Homo sapiens: one gene and its partners. The protein of the gene in region 1 interacts with the protein of each later gene in a biochemical or structural test. Each region holds a gene or a part of one and is shown on either strand. Other genes may lie near its edges. The genes, in order: SLAMF7, SH2D1A, SH2D1B and DHCR24.

What was found.
Region 2: the proteins of SLAMF7 (region 1) and SH2D1A interact in a biophysical measurement, tested with the Homo sapiens proteins (one study listed by IntAct).
Region 3: the proteins of SLAMF7 (region 1) and SH2D1B interact in a biophysical measurement, tested with the Homo sapiens proteins (one study listed by IntAct).
Region 4: the proteins of SLAMF7 (region 1) and DHCR24 form a complex in vitro, tested with the Homo sapiens proteins (one study listed by BioGRID).

The regions. Positions count from the first base shown.
Region 1 is NC_000001.11:160,749,213-160,755,329, forward strand, and holds the end of SLAMF7 (SLAM family member 7 isoform a precursor), read left to right. Parts: intron 1-608; coding exon 609-881; coding exon of another isoform or gene 882-920; intron 921-1,091; coding exon 1,092-1,211; intron 1,212-2,132; coding exon 2,133-2,236; intron 2,237-2,973; coding exon 2,974-3,036; intron 3,037-3,893; coding exon 3,894-3,965; 3' UTR 3,966-5,609; downstream 5,610-6,117. UniProt on the Homo sapiens protein: Self-ligand receptor of the signaling lymphocytic activation molecule (SLAM) family.
Region 2 is NC_000023.11:124,363,521-124,370,562, reverse strand, and holds part of SH2D1A (SH2 domain-containing protein 1A), read right to left. Parts: intron 4,803-7,042; coding exon 4,739-4,802; intron 388-4,738; coding exon 243-387; intron 1-242.
Region 3 is NC_000001.11:162,402,104-162,409,145, forward strand, and holds part of SH2D1B (SH2 domain-containing protein 1B), read right to left. Parts: intron 700-7,042; coding exon 636-699; intron 1-635. UniProt on the Homo sapiens protein: Cytoplasmic adapter regulating receptors of the signaling lymphocytic activation molecule (SLAM) family such as CD84, SLAMF1, LY9 and CD244. In SLAM signaling seems to cooperate with SH2D1A/SAP.
Region 4 is NC_000001.11:54,884,196-54,891,002, reverse strand, and holds the start of DHCR24 (delta(24)-sterol reductase precursor), read left to right. Parts: upstream 1-3,807; 5' UTR 3,808-3,883; coding exon 3,884-4,114; intron 4,115-6,807. UniProt on the Homo sapiens protein: Catalyzes the reduction of the delta-24 double bond of sterol intermediates during cholesterol biosynthesis.

The DNA of each region.
Region 1 (6,117 bases):
TCTGCAGGCTAACTAGTCAGGGGAGGAAGAAAAAGGGCAAAACACATTTTAACTGCAACCTTTAACGTCTCAAACCCATGAGTAGAGAAAGGTAAATGATGAATGTCAGACTCTTACCATCTCACCAATGAACCAACTACTCATTCTCTGAGGCAGGGGAGTGAGCACAGAGTAGAGAAGGGGGCCAGAAGGGCTACTCCAACACAATTTTCTCCTAGAGAGTAAAGTGAACTCTCATAGAGAGTAAAGGGAAGCCTGAGGACAGAGACTAGGGAACCTCTAGAACAGATAATATTAGCGGACATCTAACATGCGTTATCACAGTGCTTGCCATGTGGCTATGCTTAGTAAATGACAGTTATATTCTTATTGCATTATTATTTCTATTATTTCTATTGTTGTTATTGTTATTATTATTATATAGCTATGGTAAAGCAGACCTAGGTAGTTCTCTTTTCCAGATACGAATGAGGATTCTGCTCTGAATTACTGCTTTCTCTCCAGTCTGGAGCTCCCAGGGAGATTCAGGTCCAAGGTATCCAAGGATAATTCAGAGAATGGAGAGCTATAGGCAGAGTTTCCACCTCTGGTTTTCCTTCCTCTCACAGAGCACCTGTCAAAGCCTAAAGTCACCATGGGTCTGCAGAGCAATAAGAATGGCACCTGTGTGACCAATCTGACATGCTGCATGGAACATGGGGAAGAGGATGTGATTTATACCTGGAAGGCCCTGGGGCAAGCAGCCAATGAGTCCCATAATGGGTCCATCCTCCCCATCTCCTGGAGATGGGGAGAAAGTGATATGACCTTCATCTGCGTTGCCAGGAACCCTGTCAGCAGAAACTTCTCAAGCCCCATCCTTGCCAGGAAGCTCTGTGAAGGTGACTGCCTCTCCCCTCTCCACAGGAGACTCTGCCCAGGTCCTACACCTTCTTCAGCTCCTAGCCCCCATGGGAACAGACACTGTATGGAAACTGGAGGCCGCTGGGTGGTCACCAGGCTGGGAGGAAGGTGGCAGGTGCTCCAAGACCTGGGTCGTTTTCCTGAGCTGACTTTTCTCCCTTCCCTGTGCCTCCACCCATTCTCTGAAGGTGCTGCTGATGACCCAGATTCCTCCATGGTCCTCCTGTGTCTCCTGTTGGTGCCCCTCCTGCTCAGTCTCTTTGTACTGGGGCTATTTCTTTGGTTTCTGAAGAGAGAGAGACAAGAAGGTAGAGCGTGTACTATTTTTGTCCTCACCCACATTCATGTTTTTCTCCTTCACTGATTCAACAAGCACATATAGAGCTGTGTGCCAGACTTGGCATGAGGTGTTGAAGATGCAGAGATGAAGAAGCCACAGTCTCTGCCCTCAAGAAGCATACAGTCAGCCTGTGCTCCTTAGTTCTGGAGTAGAGAAAGTGCTGGAGGTCTTTCCCAAGGACACGGTTCTCCCAGTTCCCTTTCCAGGGCTCACTTCTCTCCTTCTCCCAGAGGGACATCCTGATGTGGCTCTTCTGTTGATACAGGCCCCACACTGCTGACTCTGCTCCCCTGACCTGGGAGGTGATGGCCTCCAACTCTGAGGTCCCCACAGACCAGCATCCTCTAGTCAATCCTTCCTATCCCTGTCAGAGCCCACAAACCACCCACACCCTTTCCACAGGATCAACCCAAGACCTCGCTTTACTGCCCACTAGACACATGGCTCCTGGGGAAGCCTTTCCCTGTCTCTCTCCAGTTGCACCCCATCCTGTGTTCCTAAACCCTGCTGATTGGTCTTCTGGGCTCCCACTGTCCATGTGGGTGATGGGGAGGGACCTAACATCAGTTGGGTATGACTTGCAGACTTTGAAATCTCCCTTCCCTCCTGGAAGCCCCTCTGAAAGTGTCTTTGACTTTCTCTACTTCCCACTTTGACCACCTTGATGGAGAGATCAGGAAGTGAAATGTTGGGGGTGGCCAATTCATCCTGATTTGTTTAGATTTTCCCAGTTTTAACACTGAAAGTCCTCTATCCTGAAAACCCTTCCATTACAAGGAAACTCGGCTGGTTGGTCACCCTAAGTGGGTCATCCAGGAGAAATGGTGGGCCAGTGGAAGTGGTGAGTGGTTGGAGAGGTGGCTTTGATTCTCTCCCAACTTGCTTTTAGAGTACATTGAAGAGAAGAAGAGAGTGGACATTTGTCGGGAAACTCCTAACATATGCCCCCATTCTGGAGAGAACACAGAGTACGACACAATCCCTCACACTAATGTGAGTCCCTTCTCATCTTTCCTGAGAACTGATCCTGTCTCTGAGGCTCTCCTTGTGAGGTTTTTCCATGGGTTTGGACAACATGGGAATGAAGAGGGGAGTGAGGATATATAGACTTAAAACTCAATGCACCTGTGCCTCCTCCAAGTCTTCATGGATTCTCTTCTGTGCAGAAGAAGCTGGTGGTCTCTGGAGCACCTGGTTCTGACTCACAATGCTCATGCTGTGGTCTGTGAAATCACCTGCTCCCCTCCACAGTTCATAACGGCCACACAAAAGGCCAGATTCCTTTTGCATAAGGCAGTGGGTAGAAGAGTGTGACTTTGACAGGATGTTTGAATCATGGTATCAGAAGACTTCTCTAGAGATCTCTCTCTCTCTCTCTCTCTCTCTCTCTCTCTCTCTCTCTCTCTCTATATATATATATATATATATATATATATATATATATATACACACACATATATATATAATATTTTTGAAATTCATTTTAACACAGTACAGTTTAAAAATAATGTAATGGCTTCCTGAAAAAAGTTATCAAAATTTATTATAATAGCAGTCACCAACAAGAGAACTTCCTACCTCCCTTCCCTGTTCCAGAACCCTCCTTTTCCTCTCACATCTCCTCCCATCTCTGCTTTCCCCTCTCTGGATTCTGAATGTCTCTCTGGCCTTGTCTATGTGATTCAGGAGGTGGGTGATGATTTCTTTTGTTTGTTGTTTGTTTTTAAAAGAGAACAATCCTAAAGGAAGATCCAGCAAATACGGTTTACTCCACTGTGGAAATACCGAAAAAGGTAAGAAGCTTTAGAGCTTAACTTCATCTTAATGGTTCCATTTCTTTTCCTGCTTCATGTTTAGGTCAAAATTTCTTGGACCCAGGTATCTCATACTCTCTAGAATTAAAAAGTACCCTAGTAGTTCCCCATTCCCTTTGCTTAGGGTTATACAAGAACATGGGGGATGGAAGAGAATTGTGTTTTAGGAATCGAATTGGGTAATCTGGAACAAATAGAGTAGGACAGAGGTTCTAGATCGGAATAATAAAGAAAATCAAAAGCCTTCTGACTGAAGTTGCAGACAAGGAAAAAGACCATGGCTTAGATTGTGCATGGAATGAAGAGAGGAATAGCTGAGAGGAGAGTCCAGCTTTCTCCTGAGACACCAGGAAACTGCAGGAGGGAGAGATCTCTACTTTTCTCCCATGGTCCAGCTATGTTACATCTGCTTTGCACCCTCCCCTCAGTTAAACTACTAATGCAGTAGCTTTAAGGCTTATTCCTTCACAGAGTACGGTTGGCAGCAGTAATGGTATCTTTCTGTCTCCTTTTTCTTCCTCTCCCAAACAGATCCAAAAAGATAAGAATCATTAAAGCAGTTTGCTTAGTAATAGAAAAGGTTGGTTTAGTGAATTATTACAACTGAACAAGGAAAGTTCAGTTCATTAAGCATTCAGCAAGATAAATATGCGTTAAACTTACAGAATAGTTTCTCTAAGCTAGGGGTGATTAAAATCAAACAGTGGGAGCCAGCATGCCAGCCGATTTGGGTTGGGTAACCTTGGAAATAAAGTTTCCTGGATGTCAGGGTCTCCATGGACGATCCAGAGCCCTGCTCACCTCCCTCACTCTACTTTCTTTTTGTCTGTCTTCAGATGGAAAATCCCCACTCACTGCTCACGATGCCAGACACACCAAGGCTATTTGCCTATGAGAATGTTATCTAGACAGCAGTGCACTCCCCTAAGTCTCTGCTCAAAAAAAAAACAATTCTCGGCCCAAAGAAAACAATCAGAAGAATTCACTGATTTGACTAGAAACATCAAGGAAGAATGAAGAACGTTGACTTTTTTCCAGGATAAATTATCTCTGATGCTTCTTTAGATTTAAGAGTTCATAATTCCATCCACTGCTGAGAAATCTCCTCAAACCCAGAAGGTTTAATCACTTCATCCCAAAAATGGGATTGTGAATGTCAGCAAACCATAAAAAAAGTGCTTAGAAGTATTCCTATAAAAATGTAAATGCAAGGTCACACATATTAATGACAGCCTGTTGTATTAATGATGGCTCCAGGTCAGTGTCTGGAGTTTCATTCCATCCCAGGGCTTGGATGTCAGGATTATACCAAGAGTCTTGCTACCAGGAGGGCAAGAAGACCAAAACAGACAGACAAGTCCAGCAGAAGCAGATGCACCTGACAAAAATGGATGTATTAATTGGCTCTATAAACTATGTGCCCAGCACTATGCTGAGCTTACACTAATTGGTCAGACATGCTGTCTGCCCTCATGAAATTGGCTCCAAATGAATGAACTACTTTCATGAGCAGTTGTAGCAGGCCTGACCACAGATTCCCAGAGGGCCAGGTGTGGATCCACAGGACTTGAAGGTCAAAGTTCACAAAGATGAAGAATCAGGGTAGCTGACCATGTTTGGCAGATACTATAATGGAGACACAGAAGTGTGCATGGCCCAAGGACAAGGACCTCCAGCCAGGCTTCATTTATGCACTTGTGCTGCAAAAGAAAAGTCTAGGTTTTAAGGCTGTGCCAGAACCCATCCCAATAAAGAGACCGAGTCTGAAGTCACATTGTAAATCTAGTGTAGGAGACTTGGAGTCAGGCAGTGAGACTGGTGGGGCACGGGGGGCAGTGGGTACTTGTAAACCTTTAAAGATGGTTAATTCATTCAATAGATATTTATTAAGAACCTATGCGGCCCGGCATGGTGGCTCACACCTGTAATCCCAGCACTTTGGGAGGCCAAGGTGGGTGGGTCATCTGAGGTCAGGAGTTCAAGACCAGCCTGGCCAACATGGTGAAACCCCATCTCTACTAAAGATACAAAAATTTGCTGAGCGTGGTGGTGTGCACCTGTAATCCCAGCTACTCGAGAGGCCAAGGCATGAGAATCGCTTGAACCTGGGAGGTGGAGGTTGCAGTGAGCTGAGATGGCACCACTGCACTCCGGCCTAGGCAACGAGAGCAAAACTCCAATACAAACAAACAAACAAACACCTGTGCTAGGTCAGTCTGGCACGTAAGATGAACATCCCTACCAATACAGAGCTCACCATCTCTTATACTTAAGTGAAAAACATGGGGAAGGGGAAAGGGGAATGGCTGCTTTTGATATGTTCCCTGACACATATCTTGAATGGAGACCTCCCTACCAAGTGATGAAAGTGTTGAAAAACTTAATAACAAATGCTTGTTGGGCAAGAATGGGATTGAGGATTATCTTCTCTCAGAAAGGCATTGTGAAGGAATTGAGCCAGATCTCTCTCCCTACTGCAAAACCCTATTGTAGTAAAAAAGTCTTCTTTACTATCTTAATAAAACAGATATTGTGAGATTCACATACAAAAAGATGCATTATTTTGCTATTTGCAATAGTGAAATTCTGGAAACTGCCAAAGAAACTGACCACCACAGGTGAAGGTCTGTTCATACATAGACATTAAGAATTATGGGTTAGGCCGGGAGCAGTGGCTCACGCCTGTAATCCCAGCACTTTGGGAGGCCGAGGCAGGTGGATTACTTGAGGTCAGGAGTTCAAGAACAGCCTGGCCAACATGATGAAACCCCGTCTCTACTAAAAATACAAAAAATATTAGCCGGGCATGGTGGTGAGCCCCTGTAATCCCAGCTTCTTGGGAGGCAGAGGGAGGAGAATTGCTTGAACCCAGGACGGGGAGGTTGCAGTGAGCCAAGATCGCGCCACTGCACTCCAGCCTAGGCGACAGAGCAAGACTCCATCTCAAAAAAAGAATTATGGGTTATACTCAGCATCATGAAATATACCTGTGTAACCTACACATGTAGCTTCTGAATCAAAAATAAAATTAAAAATAACAAATTTTTAGCATGTGCCTGT
Region 2 (7,042 bases), on another chromosome or scaffold:
CAGTTAAAATGTTATGGGCTTATAGAATTTTTGATGTTTTTACAGAGATTTATTAAAAGTTATTAGAATAATAGATGAAAATTATAGCACATAAATTGTCACCTCTCATTTGACTTGCTGGCTACATCTACTTTCTCACTGCATTTTTCTTACATAACTTCTAATTGATTATATGGTTATGAACAGGTTGACTCATAACTCTGAGCTTCCAAACCCTGTCAAAAATTAAGAGGAAATCATACCTGTAGTACCTTGTGTACTTCTAGCTGAGGACTTCTTCTCAACTGGATACTGCAGAGGTATTACAATGCCTTGATCTGGCTTCTGAAATGCTGAAATGAGATTTTTTATTTTCCGGAAATATCTTTTATGTACCCCAGGTGCTGTCTGGAAAATAAAAGGCCAAGCAAATTATTTACCTATCTCATAATGATACAAAAAGACCTACAAAATGTGCTAGGGATGCTAAGAGAAGTAACATTTGTGTAACTTGTTGAAATATTTGAAAACATAAGGAAGAAGGAAAAACAACATTCCAGAAGAGCTTACTTTGGTTGGCTGAATTTCCCTGCAAGAGGAGCTAATGAGCTGTCATTTCAGTTCTCCCAAAGGTGGTATTAGTTTGTACAAGCTCTTGCTCATTGCCCTGCCCTTCCTGCCTGCTCCCCATCAGACATCTCAAACCTCTAAGGGTATACAGGCCATTACCCACAATGAATTCACCAACAGAGGGGATGCAGTTAAACAGGAAAAAACAAAAACAAAAACAAAAAAACAGATCCTACAGGTCATTAATAAAAAGCCTGAGGAACAACAACAAAAGAAAAACCAACAACCCATCCTCCCTGCCATCATCCCACAATATAAAATGCTACACAGGAAATTAAAAATTGGCTGTTATGATGCACACAGTGCACGGCTAGTTCAGTCCTCATACTCTTTCACCTCACAATATTTCCTGCGCCATTCTTCACATTAAATTTTTTCCTCCTTGGGAAACTTCCCTATACTCCCAAAATTGTTCTCTCCATCAGCACGTCACTGTAACAAGGTTTTCTCTATGACATGAAAATGAAAGACTATATAAGGTCACCTTTATTTATTTATTTGTGTGTTTTTAAAGAGACAGTTATTTGCAGGTGACTATTAAAATGTGTTCCTTTCCTGACATCAGTTGTCTTGCAAAGACACTGCCTGAAATCAACAACAATTTCCTGCAAAAGCTTATGAGCCAAGCTTCAGGCATCAGCTCAAACCTGTCATTTTACGTAAAATAAAATAGTATTGCTATGAGCAATTGAACAATGACTAGTTTTTTTTTTAAGTTGTTTTTCAGCTATTCCATCTGGTAGATTTTTGAGGTGGGAGCTGTTTGTTTTTTTAGCATTTAATGAGAAAACATGAAGGCGAGCATGAAGACTTCTGTCAGCTAGATAGTGGTATGCTGAAGATAGCATACTACACTATCCATAGTAACTCTCAGTCATTTCCTTATGTTGGGGTAATTTTTCATTGAAAACATGACAAAAATTCTTTTTAGCTCTATATTAGTGTTCCCCCATATGTTCACAGTAGATGTAGAACACTCTCTCACCCAGCTCCACCCCACTCTCTCACCTACCCTCCACCTTCCTAAAGCTCGATTGAGAACTCATCCAAAATAACATGGCCATTCTTGCAGAAGTCCAAACAGTTCGTTGGTTCCAAGATAGAGTCTCCAAATTGCAAATGCAGGTCATAGGCACAAATTGCCTCCTTATACTTTCCTCAGTGCACTTTTTCATTTTCAAAGCACATTCCTATCTCTTGCCTTCACTATTTCCTCACAAAATGGCAGTTATTGGCTGATTCAGTTATTCCCATTTGACAGATAAGAAAATATGAATGCAAAGAAATTAATCAGCTTGCCCAAAGTCACACAGACAACCAGAGGCAGAACTGGCTCAGAATCCCAGGACCCAGTCTCTTGCCTTTCAGATTAGAACTGGGCCAAACAGGATCTAGCGAAGCTAGGGTCATCAAACAGAAGAAAAACTATACACACCTAAAGTGTGGAAAGATTTCAAACCACACATCTTTTTAGCTTCTTGTGGCTTGTAAAGTCATTTATCAACAGAAGCATAGCCGGGCACAGTGGCTCACACCTGTAATCCCAGCATTTTGGGAGGCTGAGACCGGCGGACCACCTGAAGTCAGGAGTTCAAGACCAGCCTGGGCAACATGGTGAAAGCCTGGCTTTACTAAAAATATGAAAATTAGCCAGGTGTGGTGGCAATCCCGGCTACTTGGGAAGCTGAGGCACAGGACTCACTTGAACCTGGGAGGCAGAGGTTACAGTGAGCCGAGATCGGGCCATTCCACCACTCCAGCCTGAGCGACAGAGTGAGACTCTGTCTCAAAACAAAACAAAACAGAGAAGCAACATTTTTATGGGTACTGATATGTAGCTAACACTTGATTATCCATGCTAACAGAAATGAATAATAGCACTGGAAGTATGGAAGCTATTTGAATTGGGGATCTGATGTTTCATAAGCAAATGACTGGCCTATTTTACAGTGTTTTACTTAGATTAATAAGGACAATTATTTAACATCTGCTGATCTCCTGATCATATACCCAGTAAAGCCTGAAGACACTGATGTCAACAGGGTGATGTCAGTACATTTTTAATAATGTATTGCCAACAAATCACATATTAATAAATGAAAGTAGATTGTGGAATTATCTAAATTAACAATGTAACAAACTTTTAGTCTGAGTCATATAAGATAATACACTAGGCAAAGATTTAACCTAAAAGTCTCTCTAAAACTAGAAAAACACATGATATCTGTCTTTCATAATTCAGTGGGGCCAGGGTTTGATTTCATTACACTCTTTAAAACAAATCTCACTTACCTAGATTTCTAGCATAATATATGCACAGATGGTGGCATGCTACTGCCTTGATTTTTCCTGCAGCATGGCAAACTAAAACATTGTTCCAAAAATCAGTATTAATATCTATCATTTACCCAGTTTCGAAAATACATTTATCACAAGAATTGTACCACTGACAACTCTCATCCTGTCACTGAACTCAGCTATTCTTCAAATTTGCAAATCTCCCATACTGTCACCTCTTAGTTATCCATGGAAACATGTATTAGATCACAGCTGGTCTTCAATATGCTCTAGAGAAATTTTTTCCAGTCAGGTGGTATGAGCTCTGAGAATATACACTAGTTTAATTTTCACCTTAGAAAAGCACTGCTAAGAAGGTAAATTTAGTAGATAGAAAAAAATGCAATATGCATTTCAAAAATTAAAGAATTTTTTAAACTATTTTCTATTTGCGGATGTCATGCCAATCTTCTGCTCTCTTGGTGCAGAAAATTACAATATTATTACATAAACAACGTCAGATCAGACAACAGGATGAGGGGGCATTTGTGTTCAATAAGCCCTCTCTTCTTTAACATGATCACAAGCATGTAACAATCTCATATGATGTTATACTCAAAATGCAGGAAAACAAGTTGAAAAACAAAGTTGTTAAACCCTAAGCATTTAAGATCCTTTCCTTACATAATATTCTTCAGCAGCTGAAGGGTATTTCTCTGGGGAGAAGAGCTATTTCTGGCGAAATAATATACAAACGTGTGTGTGTGTGTGTGTGTGTGTGTGTGTGTGTGTGTGTGTGTTTGTCAGTATATTTTACACATAACTTTCTTCATAATAAAGTTTAATTTCTTATTCAATCATCTCTGCAGTGATACAGAGAATTTTTTAAATAAACAGGTATAAATAGTTTCAATTAGAAATGGTATAACTTTATCTTTAGTTAGTATTATAGTTTTAATGATCCTTACATAATACAGCAAAAGTGTGTTTGAAAACTTGGCCTAATTCATCTCAGTGGTTCAAAACATTTGTGGTCTGTAATTTATACTTTCCAACTTACTGATAAATCAGTAAACGTGAGAGCTATTTTAACTTCTTGAAGTCTAGACTTCAGAAAATTTTAAATGCACAGATTGAGTTATTAATAGGAGTTGTGGCAATTTTCAGGAGTTCACTTTTTTGAGGGCTCACTGTGTGCCAGGCCTTGTGGCAAACAGCTTCTTTATGTGTGTTATCTTATTTACTTTTCAAATTGAGCCTTGTGCATAAGGGAGGATTCTTAGGCTCCGTTTACAAATGAAGAAACTGGCTCACAGAAAAGTCAAGTAACCTGCCCAAGATCATAGACCTATCAGAGAGGAGGGGAGACCAGACCTGGAACCCAGATTCACCTGTTGACAAAGCCTAGTTTCTTCCACTCATAACTGTTTAATTTCAAGTTATAACTTCCCAAGTATATTGTAGTCTCTTAGAAAATAAGCATCATGTTTTTTAATCTCCCACGATACCAATACTCATATTGGTATCATTTGGTAAATAATTGTTCATTTAATTATTTTACCTACTTTTGATATGCTAAGATTTCACATAGTCACTAAAAGTTTGACATAATTCTTCAACTTTTTTATCTTTCTCCCAAAGTCATACAACTCTGCAAAATGATGGCTAAACAGGACTGGGACCAAAATTCTCTAAAGCTTTCTTAATGATCCATGAACAATTTTGGATTGGAGCTTTAGAGATTTAAACCTTATGAATACTTAATAATGTATAATTTGCTCTTTTATAAAACCAGCCTAAATTTCAAATACCTCCTTGACACCCCCAGAAGCAAAAATAAATACAACTATACCTCAGCACTCCAAGAACCTGTTTCTGTCTGGGACACTCGGTATGTATAAATGTAACCGTGATACCTGTGAAAGAATAAACTTCCATTACTGAAAGATTCCAAAAGAACAATGGATACTTTAAATTTGAGCTTAATATTACATATAAATGTCACATATACTAGGACACACGTATATGGTGTCATTGCATTCATAGGAAGTAAAGCATAGTGAATCTAACTTGTCTCCATATTGTATCTGCCCAACCACAGTTTCCAGTGAGATTTCTTTATCTTTTCATTTTTTGAAATATGGAAATTCATGCTCCTAAAGATTTGTCAAGTTGAGAGACCATTTGGACAGAAAGAAACTACAACAGGGACCTGTTGTAATTGATAAAACCATGAATTATTAGATAGTTTTAACAAACAATAGACTTATTTTTAAGTACATATCGAAACTTAAGGTGAAAACATTTCACTGGGATAATACACTATCAGGCCCACATAAATAATTATTAATATTAATAATATTTGTTATAAATATAATGGCAATAGTATAAGGATATAATACTATAAATTGAATATAACTATATTTTTATAAAATTACTATTATAATGTATAGCAATATAATATTGCCACAGTCATGCATCACTTACCAAGGGGGATACATTATGAGAAGTGCATCATTAGGTGATTTCGTTGTTGTGCAAACATCATAGACTGTACTTACACAAACCTATATGGTATACCACCTAGGCTATGTGGTATAGCCTATTACTCCAGGCTACAAACCTGTACAGCATGTTACTGTACAGAATACTGTATGCAATTGTAACATAATGGTATTTGTGTATCTAAACCTATCTAAACATAGAAAAGGCACAGTAAAATATAGTATAAAAGATAAAGAATGCTATACCTGTTGAGAGTACTTACCATGAATGGAGCTTGCAGGACTGGAAATTGCTCTGGGTGAGTCAATGAGTGAGTGGTGAGTGAATGTGAAGGCCTAGGACATTACACTACTAGAATGTTATGAACACTGTAAACTTAGGCTACACTAAATTTATTTTAAAATATTTATATTTCCCAGATCACGAGGTCAGGAGATCGAGACCATCCTGGTTAACACAACGAAACCCCATCTCTACTAAAAATACAAAAACTTAGCCAGGCATGGTGGCACGCACCTGTAGTCCCAGCTACTTGGGAGGCTGAGGCACTGAGGCAGGAGAATCGCTTGAACTCAGGAGGCGGAGGTTGCAGTGAGACGAGATCACGCCACTGCACTCCAGCCTGGGTGACGGAGCGAGATTGTCTCAAAAAAAAAAAACTGTATCGCTTCAATAATAAATTAATCTTAGCTTCAACTCTTTTACTTTATAAACTTGTAAATTTTTTTAAACTTTTTGACTCTTTTATAACACTTCGCTTAAAACACAAACACATTGTACAGCTGTACAAAACTGTTTTTCTTTATATCCTTATTCCATAAGCTTTTCTCTGTTTCAAAATTTTTATTTTATGTATTCTTTGCTATTTAAACTTTTTTGTTAAAAACTAAAACACAAATACGCACATTAGCCTAGGCCTACAGAGAGGGTCAGGATCATCAGTATCACTGTCTTCCACCTCCACATCTTATCCCACTGCAGGATCTTCAGGTGCAGTCACACACACGGAGCTGTCATCTCCTATGATATTCATATTCCAGAATGCCTTCTGGAATACCTCCTGAGGGACCTGCCCGAGGCTGTTTTACAGCTAACTTTTTTTTATATAAGTAGGAGTAGATTTTAAAATAATGATAAAATGTATAGTACAGTAAATACATAAACCAGTAACACAGTAATTTGTTATCATTATCAAGTATTGTGTACTGTATGTAATTGTCTGTGCTATACATTTTTTTCTTTTTCTTTTTCTTTCTTTTTTTTTTTTTTTTTTTTTTTTTTGAGATAGAGTCTCGCTCTGTTGCCCAGGCTGGAGTGCAGTGGTGCAATCTCAGCTCACTGCAACCTCCGCCTCCCGGGTTCAAGCAATTCTGTTTCAGCCTCCCGAGTAGCTGAGGCTACAGGTGCATGCCACCATGGCTGGCTAATTTTTGTATTTTTAGTAGAGACAGAATTTCACCATATTGGTCAGGCTGGTCTTGAACTCCTGACCTCAGGTGATCCACCCACCTCAGCCTCCCACAGTGCTGGGATTATAGGTGCGAGCCATCACACCTGGCCTGTGCTATACTATTATACAGCTGACAGCACAGTCGGTTTGTTTATACCAGTGTCATCACAAATACATAAGTAATTCATTGTGCTGTGGCAT
Region 3 (7,042 bases), 1.7 Mb from region 1:
CTCCATCTTGCATCATTGTTGAGTCTTCTAATTCAACGGAGGTTTTGCTTGGAGTCCAGGCTGGTGTGTTTGGCCAGTGGAGGAGCCACAGTGGAATAACAGTGAGGGTTATTCAAAAGTAGAACCCAGCTGGGTGCGGTGGCTCACGCCTGTAATCCCAGCAGTCTGGGAGGCTGAGGCCGGCGGATCACAAGGTCAGGAGATCGAGACCATCCTGTCTAACACGGCGAAAACCCTTCTCTACTGAAAATACAAAAATTAGCTGGGGGTGGTGGCGCGCGCCTGTAGTCCCAGCTACTTGGGGGGGCGGGGGCTGAGGCAGGAGAATCGCTTGAACCCGGGAGGCGGAGGTTGCAGTGAGCCGAGATCGCACCACTGCACTCCAGCCTGGACGACAGAGCGAGACTCCGTCTAAAAAAAACAAAACAACAACAAAAAAAGTAGAACCCAAGCCTAGAACCTTCCTATTTCTCTTCAGGGAAAAACCAGGTTAACTCGATCTGACTCTCATCTCTGCATTGTGCTTTCCTTTTTAGAATGCTTTCGCACAGTCATGGCTCAGGTAAAAGACATGTTCCCAGGTTCTTCTCCCCCAACTTTTGTGTTGTTGTTGTTGTCGTCCTTTTTGTTCTTACCTGTATCCTGTAATACCCGTGTTTCTCTCTGAAGATTCGGTATGTGTAGACAATATTTTTAAACCTGTGGAAAAAATGACTGTGTGAATCAAAATGTTCTATGCAAATCCAGGTAACATCTATCGTTATGTTTCATATGCAATACCTTTGTTAATCTACAATCCTAAAAAAACTCTTTTTTTTTTTCTGGGACGGAATATCACTCTGTCGCCCAGGCTGGAGTGCAGTGGTGCGATCTCAGCTCACTGCAACCTCCGCCTCCCGGGTTCAAGCGATTCTCCTGCCTCAGCCTCCTGCGTAGCTGGGATTACAGGCACCCACCATCATGCCCGTTAGAATGGCTATTATCAAAAAAGACAAAGGATATAGAGAAAGGAAAACCCTTGTACAATGCTGATGGGAATGTAAATTAGTATAGCCATATGGAAAACAGTATGGAGGTTCCTCAAAAAATTAAAAATAGAATTACTGGCCGGGTGCCGTGGCTCACGCCTGTAATCCCAACACTTTGGGAGGCTGAGGAGGGCAGATCACGAGGTCAGGAGTTTCAGACCAGCCTGGCCAACATAGTGAAACCACGTCTCTACTAAAAATACAAAAATTAGCTGGGTGTGGTGGCGTATGCCTGTAATCCCAGCTACTCGAGAGGCTGAGGCACGAGAATCGCTTGAACCCAGGAGGCGGAGGTTGCAGTGAGCCAAGATCATGCCACTGCACTCCAGCCTGGGCGACAGAGCGAGACTCTGTCTGAAAAAAAAAAAAAAAAAAAAAAAATATATATATATATATATATATATATATATATGTAATTACTATATAACCTCACTACTGTGTATATATCCAATGGAAATGAATCTAGTATGTTGAAGAAATATCTGCACTCCCACTTTTATTGCAATATTAGTCACAATAGCCAAGACATGGAATCAACCTAACTTGATTAATAGATGAATGAAGAAAGTTACACACACACACACACACACACACACACACACACACACACAATGGAATATTATTCAGCCATAGAAAAATAAAATCCTGTTACTTGCAACAACATGGATAAATCTGGAGGATGTTATCCTAACTGAAATAAGCCAGGCACAGAAAGAAAAATACCACATGGTCTCACTCATACGTGGCATCTAAAAAAAGTTGATATCATAAAACTAAAGAGTAGAATGAGAGTTCTCAGGCCTTGTCAGTGAGAGGGGGAGGATTAGGGAGATATTGGTCAAAGGATACAAAATTTCAGTTAAACAAGAGATCTATTGTACAACATGATGACTATAGTTAATAACCATATATTACGTTCTTAGGCAGGGCACAGTGGCTCAGGCCTATAATCCTAGCACTTTGGGAGGCCAAGGTGGGTGGATCACCTAAGGTCAGGAATTCAAGACCAGCCTGGCCAACATGGTGAAACCCTGTCTCTACTAAAAATACAAAAATTTGCTGGGTGTGGTGGCAGGCACCTGTAATCCCAAGTACTCAGGCGGCTGAGACAGGAGAATAGCTTGAACACAGGAGGTGGAGGCTGCAGTGAGCCGAGATGGTGCCACTGCACTCCAGCCTGGGTGACAGAGTGAGACTCCATCTCAAAAAAAATAAAATAAAATAATAACCATATATTATATTTTTGAAAAATGCTGAGAGGATATTTTAAGTTTTCTCACTACAAAAATGATAACTTGATGAGGTAATGCATATGTTAATTAGCTAGATTTAGTCATTCCACAACGTATATATATTTTAAAACATCACATTGTACAAAATAAGTACATATAATTTTATCTATCAAATAAAATAAAATGAATTAGATTGTATACTTTAAATATGTACAGCTTATTTTACTTGAATTAGACTTAAGTTTTTAAAAATAAAAAAAGTAAAATCTGCTGTTGAACCTCAATAAAAAAAGAAAAGAAAATACATGGATGGCAAATAAGCACTCGTAAAGATACCCAGTATCATTAGTCATTAGTGAAACGCAGATTCAACTCACAATGAGATACCACTACACACTTATTAATACAGTTAAAATGTAAAAGACTGACCGTTCCACATGTTGGTAAGGATGTAGAGCAATCAGAACTCATGTAATGCCCATGGGAATAGTGAGATCGCATGATCACTTTGGGAAACAGTTTGGCAGTTTCTTAAAAAAGATAAGCCTACATAGAACACACAACTTAGCTGTTCCAATCCTGATTATTTACCCAGGAGAAATGAAAGCATACACCCACACAAAGACTTAGTCACAAATATTCATAGCAACTTTAGCTGTAATAGCTATAAATGAGTAAGCAATTTGGGATGCATCCCTACAATGGAGCACTATTCAGCAATGCAAAAAAATGAACTATTGCTGCATGCAACCACATAGATGGATCTCAAAATAATTATTCCGAATAAAAGAAGTCAGATAAAAATGACTACATACTCTATGATTTGATTTACATTAAATTCTGGAAAAATACACATTAATCTATAGTGCCAGAAAGCAGTTTGTGGTGGCCCAGAGTCTGGGCATAGGTGGGAGGTATGTTGATGAGAAATTACAAAGGGGTGCAAGTGAAGTTTTGGAGGTGATAAATATGTTCATTATCTTGGCTGTGTTCGTTTCATAAGTGTACATACATATGTCAAAATCCATCAAATTGTACACTTTTTATTTTATGTCAGTGATACCTCAATAAAGCAGTAAGACATATTCATGGCATAAAAAGGTAGATGAATATAATTTATCTTTCTAATATATAAACTAAATTTTAATTCCTTATACATATGTGCTTTTGCTGTTTTCATGATTGGTTTTTGGCCTCAGATAGAAAAAGTGTTTCCTATTTTTGCAGTTATGTTCTCAATAAATATGTGGTGTCTTGACTCTCTGTGTGAGACTGATACCCAGTGGAGCCTACCTTTTTGTTTATTCTATGGAAATCGTTGTCGTCATTTATGAGAAATACACTGGACTTATAAAAAACATTTAAAAATCTTAGGCATTAATTTCTCAGTTGAGGTTCAAAAAGGCTGGAATACAGGACCTCTAAGTTTTCCCATATCTTTGAATTGTTTTACTCTATCTATTTAGCTTTCAAAGTGATCGTTCCATGAGGTGCTGTGCACGGATCTCTGAGTCCTTGCTCAACGCATGAACAGCCCACAGATTAGCACGGTCTCATGTTGTGGCCATTGTTGTGGGGAAACTTGTTTGTGTTCAAGTTTTTATTTTAACTAACCTTCAAAAGGTCAGCTGAAGGAAATGGAATCGACTGCACCCTATAATATCAACAATGTGTTCTGCATTTTTCCATGCCATGATGCAAGTGGGAAATCCAAGTCAACAAAGAAATATTTTAAGACTTTTGACCTCTGGCCTTATCACTGTTCCTGATCTCAGTGTATCTTGGTGCAACCTTTTGTGGTACTAATTTTTCAGTGTGCATGAAGATTTTTTTAAACATCTAGGATTTTATCCTAACTAGGGAGTAAGGCAAACTTTCACAGATGTAAGTACAAAAATGTTAATCATTCCAAATTACACTGAGTCCACTGGACTAAATTGCAAATGAAAATTGAAAATAACCTAATGTATGATATGTATACATTATGATATATCAAATCAATAAAATACTAAGCAGTCATAAGGGGATGACCTGCTTTCTTTGATGGGGAAAGAGACCTACAATTATGGAGAAAACAGGTTGCAAGCCATCATGTATAATGAACCATTTATGTACATATATTGGTTTATAGATGCGCAGAGAAGTCTGGAGAGATGTATGCCAAAATATTAAAAATGGTGATTTCAGAGTGGTGAGACTGATATAGTTTGTTTTGTTTTTTATACCTTTCTCTATATTTGATTTTCTAAAATGAATTTTCATTAGCTTGATAAACCACCACAACAAAATGGATCATTTCTTTTCTTTCTGTACTCTACAATCCTTGCAAAAGTCTCAGAATCTGAGACTCATAAATGACTCTCAAGGCAATAGATAGACATTGCCATTATTATTCTTAATGAGAGCATGCAGTAGGTTAGGGCTCAGGTCTTCCTCACCTGCAGCCTTCCTATGGCTTTGCAAAGTCCTCCTTTTCTTCACACTTGCAGATGAATCCTTTGCACCTCCTAATATCTACTCCATTTAATTTTACTGATGATAAAGGCAGACAGTTTAGACACTCACAAAGTCACACTACACAGACAACCTTTTACACACTGGAGTTTTCTAGACACTCTATTACATTGTAAGATCAGAAAACATTTCCTGTCCACAGTTACCACATAGCTTTCTGGTTAGTGCCATATGCTGCTAGGTCAGCTCTCTCTGTGACCTCCTTCTTTTATTTCTAACCTTCCTCACAGTATTTTCATCACTAAATATTTAGCTCTGTGAAAGTCCTGAAGTATCGGGGGAACCAGCCCCCAATATTTCAACGTAGGTTCTTTTCTATTCTCCCTAAGTGTCGGCCAGTCTAAGAAATAAAGGGAAAGAGTACAAAACAGAGAAATTTTAAAGCTGGGTGTCCAGGGGAGACCCATTTTAATGCAGCAGAGAAGAAGGGGACACTGCATATCAGAGTCCACTCCCAAGCCCTCAGGTCCCCTGCTTGGGCATTTTATAACACAGATCCAAGGTGATTACCTGAAACATATTTCAGTGAAGCTGGGGACATTGGTAAGAGAGGGAATGTAATAACATATTAGCAATTTGGCCCTAGGCAAGCTATTAAATAAGAAGCTACAGTTTATTTTCTCACAAAATAGTGATCATGTCGCCTACCGCAAAGGGATTGCAAATGACAAATAAGATAATGCATGTACCATGCTTAGCAAAATGTTTGGCTCATAGATAATACCTACATGGTAACTTTTTCTGTGTCAGTGAAGACAAGCAGGCTAACACTTGTATCATAATAGTAATTCTTGCTTTGCTTGCAAAGGGTTGTATCTTGAAGCATGAATTGGTTGATGTGACCTCTTCAGAGAAACCTTTCCTGTACCCAATGGAAAGCAGCAGCTGTGTCTCTCCCTGTCATATGACTCTGTTTCATTTTCATCATATTTTCTCCTCTTACTGAAATTAACTTCATGAGGGCAGAAACATTGCCAGTAGTATTTATCACTGTATTACCAATGCTTAGGACCACGCATGGAACATAATAAGTGCTCAGTATATGCTTGTTGAATGAATGAAGGTTCCACTTATTCTCCTAAAGTCTCAGCTCCAATATCTGGTTCTCCCCTTTTTGCTGTCAGCTCTACAGTGCCCTAATGATAGTCCAATCATCATAATTATCACATGCATCACTGTGTCTGTTTACTTCTTTATTTTCCCCACTAGGCTCTGAGTTGTGTTGAAGGCATCAACCGAGTGTCTAGCACACTGTCTGACATATGAGAGAATTCAAATATTTGTTGAACAACTAGAATTTAATAGTCCATACTTATCTGTATGATAATACATTTTTACAAGGCCCTATGAGGAGATAGCTTCAGGGGTCACTTGACCTAAGCCTTAAGCCTGAGGGTGAATGAAATGTTGTTTGCCTTTCAGTGACATGTGTAGGGAGGTGGGTGAGACCTGATCATGTGCAGGGGCTTAACAAATATTTATTTTTGCCTCTCCACTTGGTTTATTTTCATTTTTTAGCTTCTCTTTTTTTCTCTTCTTTTTTTTTTTTTTTTTGAGATCAAGTCTCGCTCTGTAACCCGGCTGGAGTGCAGTGGTGCGATCTTGGCTCACTGCAACCTCCGCCTCCTGGGTTCAAGCAATTCTCCTGCCTCAGCCTCCTGAGTAGCTGGGACTACAGGCGCATGCCACCACACCCAGCTAATTAGTTTTGTATTTTTAGTAGAGACAGAGTTTCACCATGTTGGCCAGGATGGTCTCAATCTCTTGACCTAGTGATCTGCCCGCCTCGGCCTCCCAGAGTGCTGGGAATACAGGTGTGAGCCACCACGCCTGGCCCATTTTTTAGCATCTCTTAGTGACCTTTGCTTTAGATGAATATGCAAGATGGGCTGATGCACCACAGAACAGTTGAGAATAAATATCAATTTTCAAAGAGAATCCCAATATAGGCTGGGTGCAGTGGCTCATGCCTGTAATCCCAGCACTTTGGGAGGCTGAGGTGGGTGGATCACTGGAGCCCAGGAGCTCGAAATCAGCCTGGGCAACATAGCGAGACCCCATGTCTACAAAAAATTTAAACATTAACCAGGCATGGTAGTGCGCACCTGTAGTCCCAGATACTCAGGGGGCCTGAGACAGGAGAATCTCTTGAACCCAGAAGGTTGAGGTTGCAGTGAGCCATGATCGCACCACTGCACTCCAGCCTAGGAGCTGGAGTGAGACCCTGTCTAAAAAAAAAAAAAAGAAAGAAAGGAAGGAAGAGAATCC
Region 4 (6,807 bases), about 110 Mb from region 1:
TGTCTCAGCCTCCTGAGTAGCTGGGACTACAGGCACCCGCCACCACACCCAGCTAATTTTTTGTATTTTTAGTAGAGATGGGGTTTCACCACATTAGCCAGGATGGTCTTGATCTCCTGACCTTGTGATCTTCCCGCCTCAGCCTCCCAAAGTGCTGGGATTACAGGCGTGAGCCACCGCACCTGGCCAAACAAAGGTAATATTCTTAAAGAAGTTCCAGGATTAATACTCAGTCCAATCTCCTAAATTTTAGCATGCATAAGAATAACGTAGCTGACTTCTTAAAAAGTAGATTTCTGGCCCCACTTCTGGAGATTTAGCTTCAGTGGGATATGGTAGAGTCTAGGACTCTGCATTTTAGCAAGCATTCTGATGTAGTTGGTCTACAAACCACACTTCAACAAACCCTGTTCTAAAACTTCTACTTCATATCTATGGAACGGAACCACATGAATGGCTCCCAACTTCTGGATCTTTCCATCATTTGAATCTGCTCCCTTGATTATTGTGTGAAGTGTAGTTTGCAGACCAACTGCATTAGAATTCTCTATTCACCAGAATAAGACATTGATCAGGTAAGTCACTTAACCTGAGTCTAAATGTCCCCATTTATTTAAAAAAAAATACATATTAATTCCCTGCATTGCCACTCCTGAGACTGGTTGCAAAGATCAAATGATCTCAGTAGCTGCACTGTACAAATATAAGAAAATGCAATTTGTTAGGACTCTGGTATTTATCATGCTCCTTTACTGAAGAAAAAAAAAACTGTTCTTTACACTCTATTTATTAAGAAAGAAATAGAGGCTCACATTGTAGAAAGATTGCTACGTGGTCAAACTATAAAAGGGGTTTACCTAGTTAACCTGAAAAGTTCTTGCCCAGAACATCCTATTCCTAAGCATTCTGACTGTCTGCATGCTCCATCAACTCTGTAAGTAATGTATAATATGAATAGATTCCCTGACAAAGGAAGCTGCTTTGACTCCAGCAAAAATTAGTAGGTCCAAGGTTATATATCATATGATTCCATTCATATGACCTTCTGGAAAAAAAACAAAACTATAGTGACAGAACAGGGCAATGATTGCCAGGGGCTAGGAGGTAGGGGAGAGTATGACTACAAAGGGGCAGCAGAGGGAGTTTTTTGGGGTGGTGGAACTATTCTGTATCCTCATTGTGGTAGTAGTTACAGGAATCCTCATCATGCTAAAATTCATCAGCTGTACAAAGATTAAGCAGTTTTACTATATGTTAACTTAAAAAATTAATTAATTGATTGGCTCAACTCAAGTGACTGCTTTCCTTACCTGGATAAAAGCAACCCAAAGGATTAGAGTTTGGGGAGACAGAAAAGAAGAATCAGAAATATGAGGAGGGTAGGCAGGAAGAGAGAATGAGAAACGTGCACACTGAATAAACAATTGTTCTGAGTACTTTTTCACTTTTTTGTTGTTGAGACAGCCTGTTGCTAACACTAGTATGCAGTGGCGTGATCATGGCTCACTGCAGCCTTGACCTCCCAGGCTCAAGTGATCGGTCCTCCCACCTCAACCTCCTGAGTAGTTGAGACTACAAGTGCATGCCACAATGCCCAGCTTTTTTTTTTATTCTTTTTTTTTTTTTTTTAGAGACAGGGTCTTGCTATGTTGCCCAGGCTTGTCTTGAATTCTTGGGCTCAAGCAATCTGCCCCTCTTGGCCTCTCAAAGTGCTGAGATTACAGGCATGAACCACCACACCCAGCCTGAGTACTTTTTTATTCCTTTCCTTTTTTGGGAGTTGTTTCCTAAAGATCAGTTGTATCTACTTTCTGGGACTCCATCCTTCTCTTCCCAAGTATAAAACTATTCTGATTAACCAGTAATTTCCACTGTTTCTCCTACACAACACTCTTCAGTTAATTTTTAGGTAAATTTTACTTTCCAGATTACCTCACACCCCCAAAATAATCAGAATGGTTAAGCTTCTAAAGCAAAGCCCTCTTTAACAGAGTCAGACAGAATCGGGGAGAGGCATTTTTCACATTGGCTTTCCTCTTCATACTTCACTGTCCCCCTGTTGGTTGGAGCTTCTAGAGATGTAATACAAGACAAATCTGTAATTTTAAATTTTCTAGTAGCCACCTTAAAAAAGTAAATAAAACAGGTGAAATTAATTCTAATACTATATTTTACTTAATATATCAAAATGTTATTTCAACATGTCATTAACATAAAAATTACTAATGAGCTATTTTGCATTTTTTCTTTGTACTAAGTCTTTGAAATCCAGTGTGTGTTTTACTCTTAAAGGGCATTTCAGTTTGGACTAGCCACATACCAGTAGCTCATAGCTGTTGTGTAAGACAGTACAGGTCCAGGCTATTTATTTTTGAAGTCCAGTGCAAACAACCTCTCATTCTTTGCACTTTGATAACTTGAATATTTGAGCCTACAATCTTCATTCATTCATTGGTCAACAGCCGCTGGAGTGTTTACTGTGCACAAAGCACCGTGCTAGAAGCTGGAAGGACAAAAGTGAACAAGACATTGTTTGCCCTAAGGCTCAGTCTGTGGGGGTGAGAGACACATAAAGAGACAATTATAAAATAACATGAAAGAACGGTGACAGAGATGCACACTATTTAATGAGCATCTGGATGGGCAGGGGAGTGCTCTAAATGTTTCAGAGGTGGCCCTGAGCTGGCTTCGGAATGTGTGAGGTGAACTCTGAGAAGGGGATGGGAAAGGGCATTCAGAGGTACTAGCTTGACCAGAGGCGCGCAAATGAGGAATGCTGAGGCCCAGGGAGCCTCCTGAGTGCATGTCAGGGCAGAGATGAATGGAGAGGGAACTGGATAGGTATGCAAGGCCAGACAGAGAAGAACCTGGTATGTCATGTTTAGCTTCTAAACTAAAACATCTCGAAAACTTCCTAAAATTCCATATGAAATGCAAATGGCGCTGGATTTCAGCTTTTGCTGGTAACCGTGGCAGCTCCCCTACACTGGTTGCTGAGTGAGGGCAGGGCCATCTGCTTTGCTCACCACCCTACCCGAGGCTTGCAACACTGCCTGGCACAGAGCGGGCCTGGGGAGTTTACTCGGGCTGAAATGCCTTCCTTCATTCTTTCTCCTCCGGGCCTCCCATCTGCCTCAGTGAACTGGAAAAAGAGGAAGAGTGCCAGCCATAGCCTTCCATGCTTCCAATGGCCTCTGGAGTTCACGAACAGGTCTTCACCTTTCTGGGCTGCTTCCAAGTGTACACAATGGAGCTCACCACTCCCCACTGCCCAGGACTGCTGTGTAGCTCAAATGAATTCGTGGAAAGTGCCCCCTAAAAATGAAAAGATGCCTCTGGAGACCTTGCGCACACCGAGTGGCACGACCTGCAGAGGTTACCGCCAGGTTTCCATCCTCCGCGCCCGGGAACCGCCTGTCCGGCCAAAGGGTGACTGACTCAGGGCCGGGGCGCCTCCCAGCCCTCCGGCGGAAAGCCACTGCAAAACCGCTTAAGGCGCGTTTGGAAGAGGCGGCCCCGCAGCCCCGAGGGCCTGGGGCCCTGAGTCCCAACTGCCCACCCCCAGTATTCGCAGCGGACCCCACCGGCACCCAGTCCCTGGCACCCCCGCCTCGCGCGGCGGCGGGGAGAAAAGGGTGGAGCGGTCCGACTCCCGCAGCCAATGAAAGCTGCGGGTTCCTGGTCCGATCCCCGGCGCGGCTCGCCATTGGTCGCCGCCCGGGTCTCGGCCCACCGAACCTCGGCGACCCGAGCCAATCGCGAGGCGGCGGGCGATCCCGGGCTCCCCGGGCTGTGGGCTACAGGCGCAGAGCGGGCCAGGCGCGGAGCTGGCGGCAGTGACAGGAGGCGCGAACCCGCAGCGCTTACCGCGCGGCGCCGCACCATGGAGCCCGCCGTGTCGCTGGCCGTGTGCGCGCTGCTCTTCCTGCTGTGGGTGCGCCTGAAGGGGCTGGAGTTCGTGCTCATCCACCAGCGCTGGGTGTTCGTGTGCCTCTTCCTCCTGCCGCTCTCGCTTATCTTCGATATCTACTACTACGTGCGCGCCTGGGTGGTGTTCAAGCTCAGCAGCGCTCCGCGCCTGCACGAGCAGCGCGTGCGGGACATCCAGAAGCAGGTGAGCGGCGCCGGGTGCGGCCGGGACTCAGGGCCGGAGGCGGCGTGCGCGGGGATAGCGGGACGCGAGGTGGCGACGGGAGCTGCGGTGCGGGGGCGGCCAGGACTTCCTGGGGGGGTGGGGAGCTGGCGTTGGAGAGGGGTTGGAACGAAACAAAAATGTGATGGGGGCGGGGGAACAGAACAGGCAAAGTGCCCACTGTGTGCAGGGCATATGCGGGTACCTGGAGGGAGATGAAGAAGGGGAAGAGGGGGAGGTGCGAAGCACTCAGGTAACTCTCACCCGGCCCAAGCATTTCAGAGAAGGAAAGGCTTCCGGGAGGTGGAGCTGGGTCTAGAGATTGGGAAGTATGGGAAATGATTGGGGGAAGGTGTGTGGGTGGAGGGACTGGTGTGAGCAAATGCTGGGAAGCCGACAAGTGCAGGGCAGGGGCGGGAGAACGTCGGAAAAGTCCGTTTGGTGCTAGGCTGGAGAGGGGCCTTGATGCCAAGGCCGAGTTTGGACTTTATTTTGTACAGCAAGACGCTTTTGATTGGGTTTAGGATAGAAGACTAAAGCAAGAAGGTAGAACCCAGCCCAGAAGCGGGAGGGAAGAACCTCACAGCCTCTGCTGACGGAGGGCTCACTCCTTGACAAAGGCAGTCGGTCCATCTCTCAGTTCCTCAGGCACCCACGGAGCCTGTGACCTGCTGTGGCTCACAGTGGAGCCTCCTCTGCATCCAGGGACTTGGGCAGTTTCTTGACTCCCTCTGCTTCTCTTTATGTTCCTCTCTTGTTGGCATCAGGTTGCAGAGAGCTTCTGTTTCCTGCTGCCACCCTTCCGTAGGTGTAGCAGCCTCCATATTCTGCTTGCTCCGCGCTGGGTGCTTCAGGCAAGAGCATGAAGATGGATGCGGAGAGACGTTCCCATGAGGCATAAGACCTGGGGCCTGGTGGGAGAACGCAGTGTCTGGAAGTGCTTTGCCCTGTAGCTCTGGATTTTGCTGGTCACAGTCATGGCTCCAGAGCCTCTGCGTGTCCTCCCTCCCCACCTGCACCCTGTTTCCTAGCTCTTTTCTCGAGTTCAAATTCTCCATTTACCTGCTTGTCTCCCCTGTCAGACTGTGAGCTCCTAGAATGCAGGGACTGTTATGTGACTCGCCTGTGGCCCATAGGGCCTGGCTCAAAACAGCCTAGCGAGTGCCTATTAATCTTGGCTAAGCCACAAGATTCACTGTGAGCAGGAAAACAGGGGCCCAGCTGGACTAGCCTCTACCCCAGACCTGCCATGTGCCATTGCCATCCTCACAGCAACCCTGGTAGATCTTGTGCCTATCTTACAAACAGGGAAAATTGAGTTTCAGAGTGTGAGTCATGTGCTCAGGAAGACTAGTCAGTAAATGGGGCTAGAACCTAGGTTAGCTCGATTTCAGAGCCTGAACTCTGACATTTCTTCTTTCCCAGGCTTTCCCTTCCCCCCTATAGGTCTGGTTCAGTTGCCTCACACCTGGCTTGTAATAGCTGTCTGACCTAGTTGCCCTTTTTTCTGGGCTCTCTGTTTGGCCTCCAGCTTCAGTGCAGCACCCCTAATCACTCCCTCCCATCTCTGGGCTTGTGTCAAACTCCGTGGCTGCAGATTCAGGCAGGGACGAGACCTGGTTGGTCGTGGAATCCTACCTATCATCCCTTTTCCCCCAAATCACAGGAATCTCTTCCTTAATACCTGCCCTGGCCTCTGATCAAAGAAAAGTCCTTCCCCGTGTTGAGCTGTTTGCCTAGCCAGCTCCAGTGCAGCCTTCTCCAGGAGACCTGACCAGTATTTGACCAGACTTTTGGTTGCAAGTGAAAGAAGCTCAATTCAAACTGACTTGAGCAAAAAGGGATTTTATTGGCTCAGGTCCTGAAAAGTCTGGGAGTACAACTGGATCAGGCATGGCTGGATCCAGGATCCTCTGTCCCCCATCTCCATCTGTCCATCCCTCTGCCATCTGTTGGCCCTGCTTTTCTAGGTTGACTTCATTCTCTGGAGCCTCTCTCCCTGCAGAGGCCCCAACAGTTTCTGGCTCATATCCAACCGGCTTAGCGACCCCAGTAAAGAGAGAGTGGCTGTCCTGGAACTGGTCTCATTGGCTTGACTTAATGAGATGTCATTAATCTGTCTCTGGCCAGAAGTATAGAATCAGTCCTCAGTCATGTACCCACCTCCTGGGGTAGGGGAGTAGAATCAGTCTCACTTGGACCAAAGGAAGATGGGGATTGTTAGAAGTGGATGAAGAGGAAATGGATGGTCACAGGTCAAAATGACAAATATCCACCCCCCCTGCACTTGTCTATCTCAGCAGAAAAGAAACACTTCCTCCTGCATTTCTGATGGGCTTGTCATCCATGGGCCATTTGTTCTGTGTTTTGTGCTCTGGTCACTTACCTTAGAGGTTTTGTAAAACCTCTTCCTTCCATTGGCTTGGTGGTCCTTCCCTGCTCCTCCTCTTCCCCTCAAAGTGATGCATGAGTTAACATATACAAATGTTTAAACAGGCCTTGGCATGTGATAAGCCTCCATACGTGTTAGCTATTACCCTGTGAACTGTTACCACAACTCCATCTATCTTTCCTGTCCTGAAGTCAAACAGTCCTGGCTATGAATCTCAGCTCTGCCATTTACCAATTGTGTGACTTTGGACAAGTTATTTTGCTTTTGAGTTTCCTTATCCTCG